3 linked regions of the Homo sapiens genome follow. The protein of the gene in region 1 interacts with the protein of each later gene in a pairwise test. Each region holds a gene or a part of one and is shown in the gene's direction. Other genes may lie near its edges. The genes, in order: TRIP10, RHOJ and ARHGAP44.

The links.
Region 2: the proteins of TRIP10 (region 1) and RHOJ interact in binary tests that used the Homo sapiens proteins (3 or more experiments, as listed by UniProt).
Region 3: the proteins of TRIP10 (region 1) and ARHGAP44 interact in binary tests that used the Homo sapiens proteins (3 or more experiments, as listed by UniProt).

Annotation. Positions count from the first base shown.
Region 1 is NC_000019.10:6,742,561-6,746,309, forward strand, and holds part of TRIP10 (cdc42-interacting protein 4), read left to right. Parts: intron 1-406; coding exon 407-554; intron 555-633; coding exon 634-696; intron 697-933; coding exon 934-1,038; intron 1,039-1,147; coding exon 1,148-1,276; intron 1,277-1,993; coding exon 1,994-2,140; intron 2,141-2,239; coding exon 2,240-2,434; intron 2,435-3,074; coding exon of another isoform or gene 3,075-3,095; exon of another isoform or gene 3,096-3,174; intron 3,175-3,468; coding exon 3,469-3,636; intron 3,637-3,749. UniProt on the Homo sapiens protein: Required for translocation of GLUT4 to the plasma membrane in response to insulin signaling. Required to coordinate membrane tubulation with reorganization of the actin cytoskeleton during endocytosis.
Region 2 is NC_000014.9:63,277,298-63,281,046, forward strand, and holds part of RHOJ (rho-related GTP-binding protein RhoJ), read left to right. Parts: intron 1-3,673; coding exon 3,674-3,749.
Region 3 is NC_000017.11:12,787,710-12,791,458, forward strand, and holds the start of ARHGAP44 (rho GTPase-activating protein 44), read left to right. Parts: upstream 1-1,788; 5' UTR 1,789-2,129; coding exon 2,130-2,182; intron 2,183-2,433; exon of another isoform or gene 2,434-2,575; intron 2,576-3,749. UniProt on the Homo sapiens protein: GTPase-activating protein (GAP) that stimulates the GTPase activity of Rho-type GTPases. Thereby, controls Rho-type GTPases cycling between their active GTP-bound and inactive GDP-bound states. Acts as a GAP at least for CDC42 and RAC1.

The DNA of each region.
Region 1 (3,749 bases):
TTGGGAGGGTGAGGCGGGAAGATGCGGAGTTCGGGGGGATTGGAGTTTGAGACCTCATCTGGAAAAAAAAAATTAGCCAGGTGTGGTGGCGTGTGCCTGTGGTCCCAGCTATTTGGGAGCCTGAGGTGGGAGGATCACTTGAGCCCAGGAGTTTGAGGCTGCAGTGAGACGCAATCATGCCGCTGCACTGCAGCCTGGGTGACAGCAAGACCCTGTCTCAAAAAAAAAAAAAAAAAAAATCTACTCAAGGGTTGGGGTTAAGGAATATGGACCAGAATTTGTCATCGCTTCAGGGATTACATTCTTGGGGCTTAACCCTTTTCCACCTGGAGGTGCGTCCTGGGGCATCAGCCTGCTCGGGAGGAGGGGCCTGACTCCCTGTTCCCCGATTCTCATCCAACCCCAGATTCAGCCAGCAACAGTCCTTCGTACAGATTCTCCAGGAGGTGAATGACTTTGCAGGCCAGCGGGAGCTGGTGGCTGAGAACCTCAGTGTCCGTGTATGTCTTGAGCTGACCAAGTACTCACAAGAGATGAAACAGGAGAGGAAGATGGTGAGGAGCCCCCCGATTCAGGTTTTACAAAGGGCTTCTGCTGGAACCCTGGCGAGCCTTATCACTCTTCTTTCTGTAGCACTTCCAAGAAGGGCGGCGGGCCCAGCAGCAGCTGGAAAATGGCTTTAAACAGCTGGAGAATGTGAGTTTGCAGAGGTAGCAGTGACTGTGGCCCGGAGGCATGGGGGCAGGGTTGCGGATCCGGAGTCAGGGAGCTGCCCTCTTTGTCAGACCTGGACCTTCCCTCCCCCATAGGCTTCCAGTACTCCCTTGACCCCTACTTACTGGATGACATCCCAATAATCCCTGAAACCTTGGTTTCCCACCCTGCTGTCTTTGGGATGGTGGCTCCCTCACTCCGGTTCTGTCCCCTACACAGAGTAAGCGTAAATTTGAGCGGGACTGCCGGGAGGCAGAGAAGGCAGCCCAGACTGCTGAACGGCTAGACCAGGATATCAACGCCACCAAGGCTGATGTGGAGAAGGTGTGTGTGGCGGGGGCGGGGGGGGGGTGCGGGGTCTGGGACAAGCTTGGGGAGTCCGAGTGGGACGTGATCGGAACCTGGCAGTACCTTCCACCTCTGCATTCTTCAGGCCAAGCAGCAAGCCCACCTTCGGAGTCACATGGCCGAAGAAAGCAAAAACGAATATGCGGCTCAACTGCAGCGCTTCAACCGAGACCAAGCCCACTTCTATTTTTCACAGATGCCCCAGATATTCGATGTGAGTGCTCCCAGTTCTCAGACCTACCTTCCCGAAAGCCTCCAAATGTTAGCCAACTCCTACGCATTCATCAAAACCCCAGCTGCAATGTCCCAGTCCCTAGATTGAAAGGGAATCAGAAACCTATAGTAACAGTGAGCTGTGCTTTTAGTCAGCTGTTCTTCCTGCTGGGCATGCCTTTTACTTGTTTGTTTATTTACTTCTATAGAGAGATGGGGCCTGGCTCTGTCACCCGGGCAGGAGTGCAGTGGCATAATCACAGCTCACTGCAGCCTGGAACCCCTGTGCTCAAGTGACCTTTCTTTCTTTTTGAAATTCCTACTTATTCTTCTAAGCTCCACCTCTAACAACCCCTCTGAAAGGTCTCGAATTTCCCCTCTCCTGTTTCAATCTAGCGCTCCACTCTCTGTCCCATCCGTGGCCCTGGGAGTATCAGGGCTGGTTCTGCTTTTTCTTCAAATCCCTGTTCCCTTGTCTCCTCCTTTGAGAAGCCTTTGCTGACCCCCTAGGCACGCGTCCCCCTCTGAGATCCCCCTGGCCCTGTGTCTCTTCCCCAACCACAGTGGGCTGGAGTCTCTCTTCCCGACTCTGTCTTCCCCTCCAGACTGGCTTGGGGCTGGGGCCAGCGTGGAGCGCGATCATATTTGCAGAGTGAATCACTGTGCTTCTAGTCCCTCTGTTAGCACCCCTGAGCCACCCTTGTCCCTGTCCTTACAGAAGCTCCAAGACATGGATGAACGCAGGGCCACCCGCCTGGGTGCCGGGTATGGGCTCCTGTCGGAGGCCGAGCTGGAGGTGGTGCCCATAATAGCCAAGTGCTTGGAGGGCATGAAGGTGGCTGCAAATGCTGTGGATCCCAAGAACGTGGGTGCCTGGTCTGGGTCCACTGGGCTACGGGAAGGGCAGAGGGAGGTACCCATAGGCTAGGCACTCGACTGCTCATCCACTGTCCCCCTCCCCCAGGACTCCCACGTCCTTATAGAGCTGCACAAGTCAGGTTTTGCCCGCCCGGGCGACGTGGAATTCGAGGACTTCAGCCAGCCCATGAACCGTGCACCCTCCGACAGCAGTCTGGGCACCCCCTCGGATGGACGGCCTGAACTCCGAGGCCCGGGTCGCAGCCGCACCAAGCGCTGGCCTTTTGGCAAGAAGAACAAGGTGGGGGCCGGGACCCTTGGGATGGTGGGGGAGAAGGACAGTGAAGTGGGGACAGTGGGGCCCCTATTGAGTCAGCCCCAGCCGCCTGAACGCCGAGTCTCGGGCAGGAATTTTCCTCTTGGCTGCCAGCCCGGACTGGAGGGAAGGAAGGCGGCCGATTGGCCTGGGAGTCCCCCGAGGCGAAGGCGGGGGCAGGGTGGGGAGGTGGGGAGGTCCGTGGCGTTTGTCTGCTGCTTCTCGGGATGCTGGGAGAAAACCTGCTGGTGGAATTCAGGGCTGGCCTGAGGGCTGGTGACACCATCCCTGGGGACTCCCCGAGTTTCTCTCTCCATCCTGCTGATGGGACTCTGGGAGCCGCCCTGCATGTCTTGCTTTCTTGGGTTTTTGGATTTTAATATACCTTAGCACCCTTGGTTTATACCTTTGATTTATACTTTGGGTCCCTCTTCACTTACACTCTCATACCTCTCCTTGACTTAACACCTGTGATCCCCGAGCTTAAACTTCTGATGCCCCTAACCCCTCTCATTTTCCTGCCTTCCACTCCCTCTCGGCTTGTGGTTTTATTTTTGTTTATTTATTTTTGTCCTCTGTGGCCTCTTACCTGTCTGAGACCTTGATTCCTGCATGCGTCTTCTAGACTGTCAGCCCAGAAAGCTAAGTGGACAGAGAGACATGGGCCTCCCTGCCTCCTGGACCCATGCTTGCTCCCGGACATAACATTCCAGAGACCTAGGAGATACCGGGGGAGTGAGAGTTCTGGCTTTCGGGCTTACAGTTCAACATCCTCCCCGCCACCTTCCAGATTTTTTTGTGTCGCTCCTGCATGCGTTTTCTCTGTGTGGTTGTGCATCTTGAGTTGTGGTTTTCTTACCGTTTTTTTTCTTTCTCCATTTTGTTTTTCCTTTTTCCTTTTTTTGCGTCCATCCGTCCATCCGTGCGTCCATCCCTCCGTCCATTCGTCCTCACTCTCTACATCCTCCTATGCCCCCCCACCCCTTCAACCTATCCCCCTCCCCGGCCCCCGCCGGTAGCCTCGCCCCCCACCCCTCTCCCCCCTGGGGGGCCCCGTACCCTCGGCATTGCCTAACGGACCCCCGTCCCCCCGCTCCGGCCGTGACCCCTTGGCCATACTGAGCGAGATCAGTAAGTCGGTCAAACCGAGGCTAGCATCCTTCCGCAGCCTTCGAGGCAGCCGTGGGGTAAGTGAGGCCTCGGGGCAGGAGGAGGTGGTGGCCCTAGCCTGCCCAGCGGCGGGTGGCGGGACCCTGGGCTCGCTTCCTGCCGCTGGCTGGGCCCCTCTTCCCTGGTTGCC
Region 2 (3,749 bases), on another chromosome or scaffold:
AAACAATGGCTGACCTTTAGCAATAACCCCTTGGGTGCATCCTCCATTAATGTTGGAGATGATAGTGAAGTACAGCCGTGTTCTCAACTCCAGGTCCACCCCAAACCAATTAAGTCAGAACTCCCAGATACGCAGGCCCACTCTCCAGAGATTCTAATTTAGCTGGTTCCAGAGTAGAAAAGGGGGTGGAGCAAGGAGTTGATTAGCAGAGCTTCAGGATGGTTTAAAAGCTCCCCAGGTGATTCTAATAAAAGTCACTGCAATAAATGGCCCACAGAAGTGCCACGTGTTCATTTGCAGGTCACTGTAGAGGTCATTTCTTCCAGTCTGTCAATAGCATTTATTGAATATTTACTGCGGAAAGAGTACCTGTAGGGATGAGAAAAAAATCAACATGGTCCCTACTCCATTTATGACAATCCAGATGGGAGCATGCAGTGGCAGAGGGCAGGTGGTGTGGTGAACAGCTGTAGATTATAGCCTGGGAAGGAGACTTCTTGGCTCACGGGCCTTACAGCTGCTCTTTAAGGGAACACTCCAGAGAGAAAAGAGAGAAGTGGGGAGACCATGGAAGAGGAGGTTTGTTTTTCAGAGCTAGTTGTGTAAAGAGGAGAGGGTAGTGCCAAGAATTTAGCTATCCCTTTCTCCACTGCCTCACCAGCTACACAAACACACACACACACACACACACACACACACACACAGACATAGGCACAACTTGGCTGAGATGCAACCCAGTAGACCTGGCACAACTTCCCAGTATGACCAGTGATTATTCAGCTGTGCACCCAACTCCCAATTATTGACTAGAAATGTGGTAAATTAGCCACAATAGTGGGGGTTTTTTTTGTTTTGGGTTTATTTTTTAGGATTTTACTTTTCAGCATCATTGCCCTCTTGCTTTGCATTTTGCATTAGGTACCTAAAACCTGTGCTTAAGTTTTAATAGTAGTAGCAGTAGTGGCCACATATACTGAGTCCCGTGTTCTGCATACTCTGAGTAGCTAAACAATAGATCAATGCATGCCCACCAACAGGAGTGGACCATACTTAACATTCTAAGGTACTTCCTTTCAGTCTCATGTGTATGTAGTGTGCACATGTGTGTACTTCCTTTTCTGGTCTTTTTTAAAATTTTTTTTATTATACTTTAAGTTCTGGGATACATGTGCAGAACGTGCAGGTTTGTTACATAGGTATACACGTGCCATGGTGGTTTGCTGCACCCATCAACCCGTTATCTAATAAATATATTATTAGAGTCAATAGAAAGGTTGATATTAAAAATATATCCATGATATATTGTTTTAAAAAACACAAGTGGCACAACAATATGAACAATTTAATCAATTTGTTTTTAAACTAAACATGTGTATGTGGTATACATACATAAATATAAAATGGGCCAGGTATGGTGACTCACGCCTATCATCCTAGCACTTTGGCGGGGGCTGAGGCAGGAGGATTGCTTGAGCCCAGGAGTTCAAGACCAGCCTGGGCAACACAGTGAGACCCCCATCTCTACAAAAAAAATAAAAATTGGCTGGGTGTGGTGGCATGTGCCTGTAGTCCAAGCTACTTGGGAGGCTGAAGTGGGAGTATCGCTTGAGCCCGGCAGTCTGAAGCTGCAGTGAGCCATGATCACGCCATTGCACTCCAGCCTGGGCAATAGATTGAGACTCCATCTCAAATAATAAAATAAAGTAAAATAAAATGTTTGGAAGGACAATGTTTAAGCAGTAGCTCCCTCTGGGGAGAGGAAATACTATTAGACATCATATCAGGGATGAAAACAAGCTTTCACTTCAACTCTGTGTACTTCTTCAATGTTTGCATTTTTGCAATGAGCACATACATGTTTTGTAAGTTTCTGAAATGTTTCATGAAGAGTAGTCATGCCCCTAATAAATGAGTTAATTATTTATTAACCCATCTCTATGAATACATGTATATCATAGGTGTGAACATATAAGTTTAGTTGCACATATAGTATACACACATATATAGTGCACACACATCATATATAGTGTGTATACACATACAAATTATGTATGGTGTGTATGGACACATGTCATGTTGCGATATGTGATGTATATATAAATATGGTATGTGTATGCACGCTTACACACAAAGTTACTGTCTGTTTATGTGTTACTAAATTCTATAAAAACATATAAAACTTTCTATTGAAATATCAGGTTTTACCGTGGAACCTCCTAAAACATTTTACATACAGTAAAAGCCCTTGCCAACATTTTCCCAAAGTCGAAATGATGCGCAGTTTTACTTTGTATTTATCAACTCCCACTAAAATAGCAAATACATAAATATCTTATGTAACCAGAAACTCTTCCATGAGCATATTCTGCTCTGAAAAATCTTTAGAAAGAAAATAATTAAGCCAGCATTTTATTTGGCCTTTAAGTAATACTTGAAACAAATCCAAAATTCTTAGCTCTAAACCCTCACTCAACATATTTCTTCAAATATTGTGGTGTCAAATTTGGCAATAACTCTTGTTTTGCATGTTAGTTCATTTATTCTAAATTAAATTTGGATATAATTTTTTTTAATCGTGTGAGGAGAGGATTCCTGTTGCCTTGGCAAATAGCTCACTAATTTAAATATAGTATATTCAATATAACACAATTCCAACATGATGGAAGAATTGCAATAATCTTTACTGAATGTTACACTTTAAATGGGTGAACTTTTGGTCTTTTGTTTTATTTTGTTTGTTTTTTGAGACAGGGTCTTGCTGTGTTGCCCAGGCTGGAGTACAGTGGCATGATCACGGCTCACTGCAGCTTCAAACTCCCAGGCTCAAGCCATCCTCCCACTTCAGCCTCCTGAGTAGCTGGGACTACAGGCGTGTGCCACCATGCCCAGCTAATTTTAGTATTTTTTTGTAGAGATAGGGTCTCGCTATATTGCCCAGGCTGATCTCAAGCTCAAGGAATCAGGTGATCCTCCCGCCTTGGCTTCCAAAGTGCTGGGATTACAGGCATGAGCCACTGTGCCTGGTCAGGTGAACTTTTGAATACATAGAAACAGAGAGTAGAACTATTGTTACCAGAGGCAAGTAAGGAAAGGAAACGGGGAGGTTTTGATCAAGGGTACAAAGCTGCAGTTAGCTAGGGTGAATAAGTCTACAGCTGTAATATACAGCATGATAACTATAGTTAATAATACTATATTGCATACTGGAAATATGCTAAGAGAGTAGGTCTCTGGTCCTCTCACCGTAAAATATATTTTTAAAGGTAAGCTGTAAGGAGATGAATATGTTAATTTGTTTCACTGTAGCATATATATGTATATCAAACACCATGTTGTACACCTTAAATGTATACAATTTAAAAATAAAAATAAATGGGTGAACTTTATGGTATATATAGGTAGGTATATAAGTTATATCTCAATAAAACTGCTAAAAATATTTTAAGTTCATCTTAAGAAGGGGCAATACATAATCTCTGTACGTAACAAAAAGGTATTTTTCTGACTGATGGCTCCTTTAGTTCTAGTAGAGAAAGAACTACCAGATTCCAGGGTTGAGGAAGAAACGGGATCCCAGTGCGCTGTAGTGGACTCTTACCTGAAATCTGACCTTGGAACTACATGGGACACACCTTACACAGGCTGTACAAACCCTTGTCTGCTCTTCCCACAGGAGGACTACAACCAGCTGAGGCCACTCTCCTACCCCAACACGGATGTGTTTTTGATCTGCTTCTCTGTCGTAAACC
Region 3 (3,749 bases), on another chromosome or scaffold:
GTGTTGCTAAAAGTCATACAGTGACCTTAATGTCTTACCGTTTATACACATAAAAAGCATGTTGTACTTTGCTTTTTAAAAAATCTCAAAATGGAAATAATTTCACTTAATATAGACATCATATTGACATTATAGGTACAGCATAGTTGGTTAAAAGCAAATAATGCCTTCATTTATTCACTGGCTGGAGTTGTCTGACCTAATAAGCAGAGGCTAAATTCACAATTAATTAAAGATTTCATGTTCATTCAGCCAAGACATGCCTCAAACCACTTTTTGTTCAGCTAGCCAGCAAGATACTTAGAGCCATATTTAGGACATCTTGCAACTATAATCAACATATGCAAAATATCCTATTTCAAAGAAGATCCTTCCTTTATAAGATTAGTAATTCTGTTGTATGAACAGGATTTTTCTCTATTATGCTAAATATAATCATTTTGTAGTAAATGAATACGGCAATGTACTATATGAAAATTTATATGTAATTTGATTATTGTAATTTAACAAATAGTTCTCTTACTGAAGATCAGGCAGCATATTTTTCTATTTAGGGATGAGGAAACAGAGGTTTGGAGAGGTTAAGCTGTTTTCCTAAGGTTATATAACAGGTATGTGGAATTCTGATGCAGGAACTCCTATCTGTTTAATCCAAAGTGCCTCACACCCAACAATACTGCTTTTACTTGATATATAATGATAAAACCTTGATATATAATGATAAAACCTAACTGCAATCACCAATCTTTTTCTTTTTTTTCTTTTCTTTTTTTTTTGTTTTTTGAGATGGAGTCTAGCTCTGTCACCCAGGCTGGCGTGCAATGGCGCGATCTCCACTCACTGCAACCTCCACCTCCCAGGTTCAAGCTATTCTCCTGCCTCAGCCTCCCAAGTAGCTGGGATTACAGGTGCCCGCCACCACGCCCAGCTAATTTTTGTATTTTTAGCAGAGACAGGGTTTCACTGTGTTGGCCAGGCTGGTGTCGAACTCCTGACCTCGTGATCCACCCTCCTTGGCCTCCCAAACTGTTGGGATTACAAGCGTGAGCCACCGCGCCCGGCTCACCTATCTTTTTCTAAGGATAGAGACCAAAGAAGCCACAACCCCTTCCAAGGAGTCAACTGACGCCAATGGGATGCTGTGGTGCAGGACACTTGGGGGGTGCTGCAGCTGATGCCCCTTGGTCTCCTGGTGGTGGAAGGGAAATGGGACTAGATACGAGATTGGCATCTAAGCCATACAAAAAAGCTGTCTCAGACAGGTTGGGCCAGTAAGCACAACGTCACTTATCTATATTGGCTTCTGGTTACCTAATGGGTTTGGTTTGGTAAAAATTAAGAATCAGACTTCTGGGATGCAAGCTATGCCTGTTCAAAATCTGCTGTCAGCCCCTGTGTTTCAAGCTTAACCTTGAACCTCATCATTAATCAGGTGACCTTAGACCGTTTTATCAGCCACGTATCTGCTAGCATAAATCTCCCTTCTGTGAATTCAGAACACTGATACCTCACATTCACTAAAAATACAATGAGAGACAGATGCTCACTTTCTTTATTTGCTGTTGTATTCTTGGTCCCACTTTGCCATTTTTAAAACAGGAAAACGTTTCCCTTACTCGAACGCTAAAGTGCAAAGCTGCTGGTGACGCTGCCTTCTCCCACCTCCGCACTCCACTGTCCTTGCAAACTTTGGACAGAGGAAAGGTGGGCACGGGGCGCGAAACTACAAGTCCCGGCATGCACGGCGTTCTCCGCACAGGCGCACGGGGACCGCCGGGCCAGCCGGCCAGCCAGCCTGCGGAGACTCCCGGGTCCCCGCGCCGGACTGGGACTGGGAGCAGGCAGCCCGGGCGGAGCGGGCCGGTGCCGAGGACGGCCCCAGGCATTGCTCTGCCCCGGGCATTGCGCGGCGCGCGTGAGGGGGATGCGGCAGGAGGCGGCGCGGCGGGAGGAGTAGGCGGCGGCGCCCTCGGGAGGGAGCTGCGCGCGGGCCAGACGGCGCCCGGAGGCTCCGCAGTGCCGCCGCCGTCGCCCGGGAGGCTCCGCGCGGGAGCCATGTAACCCTGCGGCGGGCTCCGGGCTGCTCCGTCCTTCCCCAGCTCCCGGGCTAGCGCGGCAGCGGGGCCACGATGAAGAAGCAGTTCAATCGCATGCGCCAGCTGGCCAACCAGACGGTGGGCAGGTAGGTCACCCGCGGGCACCGCTGTCGGTGCGCGCCCGCGAGGCTGCATCCGCAGGGGCGCGCAGGTGATGGAGCCCGCCCAGCCTCCAGTCCTCCTTGCCTCAGTCCTTTCCCCTGCACCAGCTCCCTCCAGGCGCCGCTCGCAGGCGCGACCCCTCCTCCCTAACTTCCCAGACCCCGGAGCTCTTCTCACTCGCCGCCTTCTGCTCCGGGCTCCGGTTGCCAAGCGCAAAGTGTGACGCATCCTTTACCTGCGTCCCCGGCTGCCCCTTCGCTTCGTCCTCCCTGCCTTTCCCCGGGACTCCCTTCTCCCTCTGGCCGCCTGTCTTCCTGGAAACAGGTGTTTGCTCTGATTGTGCTGGAGGCAGCCGAACCGCAGTCGGTCTCCGGAGATCTCTTCCCTCCCCTCCCCTGCGCCGAGTTCAGGGCTGCTCCCGGGTCCAGGGAAAGTGCTGGGCCTGGTCGGCCTGCCCCTCCCGCCGTGTTTGTTTTCAGGGACTATGACTGTACGAGATTCTGGATCACTTTCCTGGCCGGGTTTCTTAAGGCGTTTGGTGGGGGGAAAGGGTGAGGGGTGGGAGAGGAAGGAAGGTGCTGGTGGAATGGCGTTGCTGCCTGCTTGATGTTAGGACTGATTTCAGTGGAGGGAGGGAGGCTGCAAAAAGGAGGCCCAAGTCCTCGGGAAGATGAGATAAGCAGAGAATCGCAGCCAGGTAGGGGAGGGGGACAGAGGCCCCACAGTCAGAAGAGTCAGGCCCCGGGAAGCTGCAAGACCCCGCCTGCTGCCATCACGGTGAAAATGGGCTACATCTGGACTCCAGGAGCGGCTCTGCAGGGTGCCAACATCTATTAAGGTTACATAAAAATCCTGGTGGGTCGCTCCCAAGACTAGACATTCTTTGAACACAGGAGCGTTAGGTAGAAGGGATTTTTCCTGGAACCCCTACTCCTGGGGAGGGATTTCCGTTGCTGCTGTGGCAAAGGAATTCAGGTGTGCTGTTCTAAAGCAATCAGAAAGCAAAGAATCCAGCCTTGGGTGCAGTTCAAATGCAAGCTCAACACCTCGAGGGCTCTCCACTAGGTTTACGGAGAAACCGAATACCTTTCTTGGGTGGGAAGTGGAGCCTGAACTGGCATCTGGTAGGATGGGGGTGGGGACATCCCTGGGGAATAGGGGACATCTGAACTCCCGTCTGAGCATACTGCCCTAGTTACAGTGGGCATTTGAGGGCAGGGGATGCGGTGGCTTCTTATGCTTCCAGGGACTCCAGATGGTTTCCAAGTAACAATGTCTAAAATTGACTTGGATTCATTTTTCCTTCCCAAACACATGTGCTTTAACATGAGGGGGAATTTATGAATAGCAGAGTCAGATTAGCCCAGATTTCTGGCATGGTATTGCCACAGATATAGCCTCACGTGGACTGCCTTTTGATGTGTTGGATGCCGAGATAGTGTTTCCTGGTATTCGTTGTTTAGCAGATGACAGTCAAGCCGACCCGTCTTTAATGTCTTGGCTTCTTCGTCACCCTGCAGGCGGGCATTGGCCATCACCTCAGACCAGCCA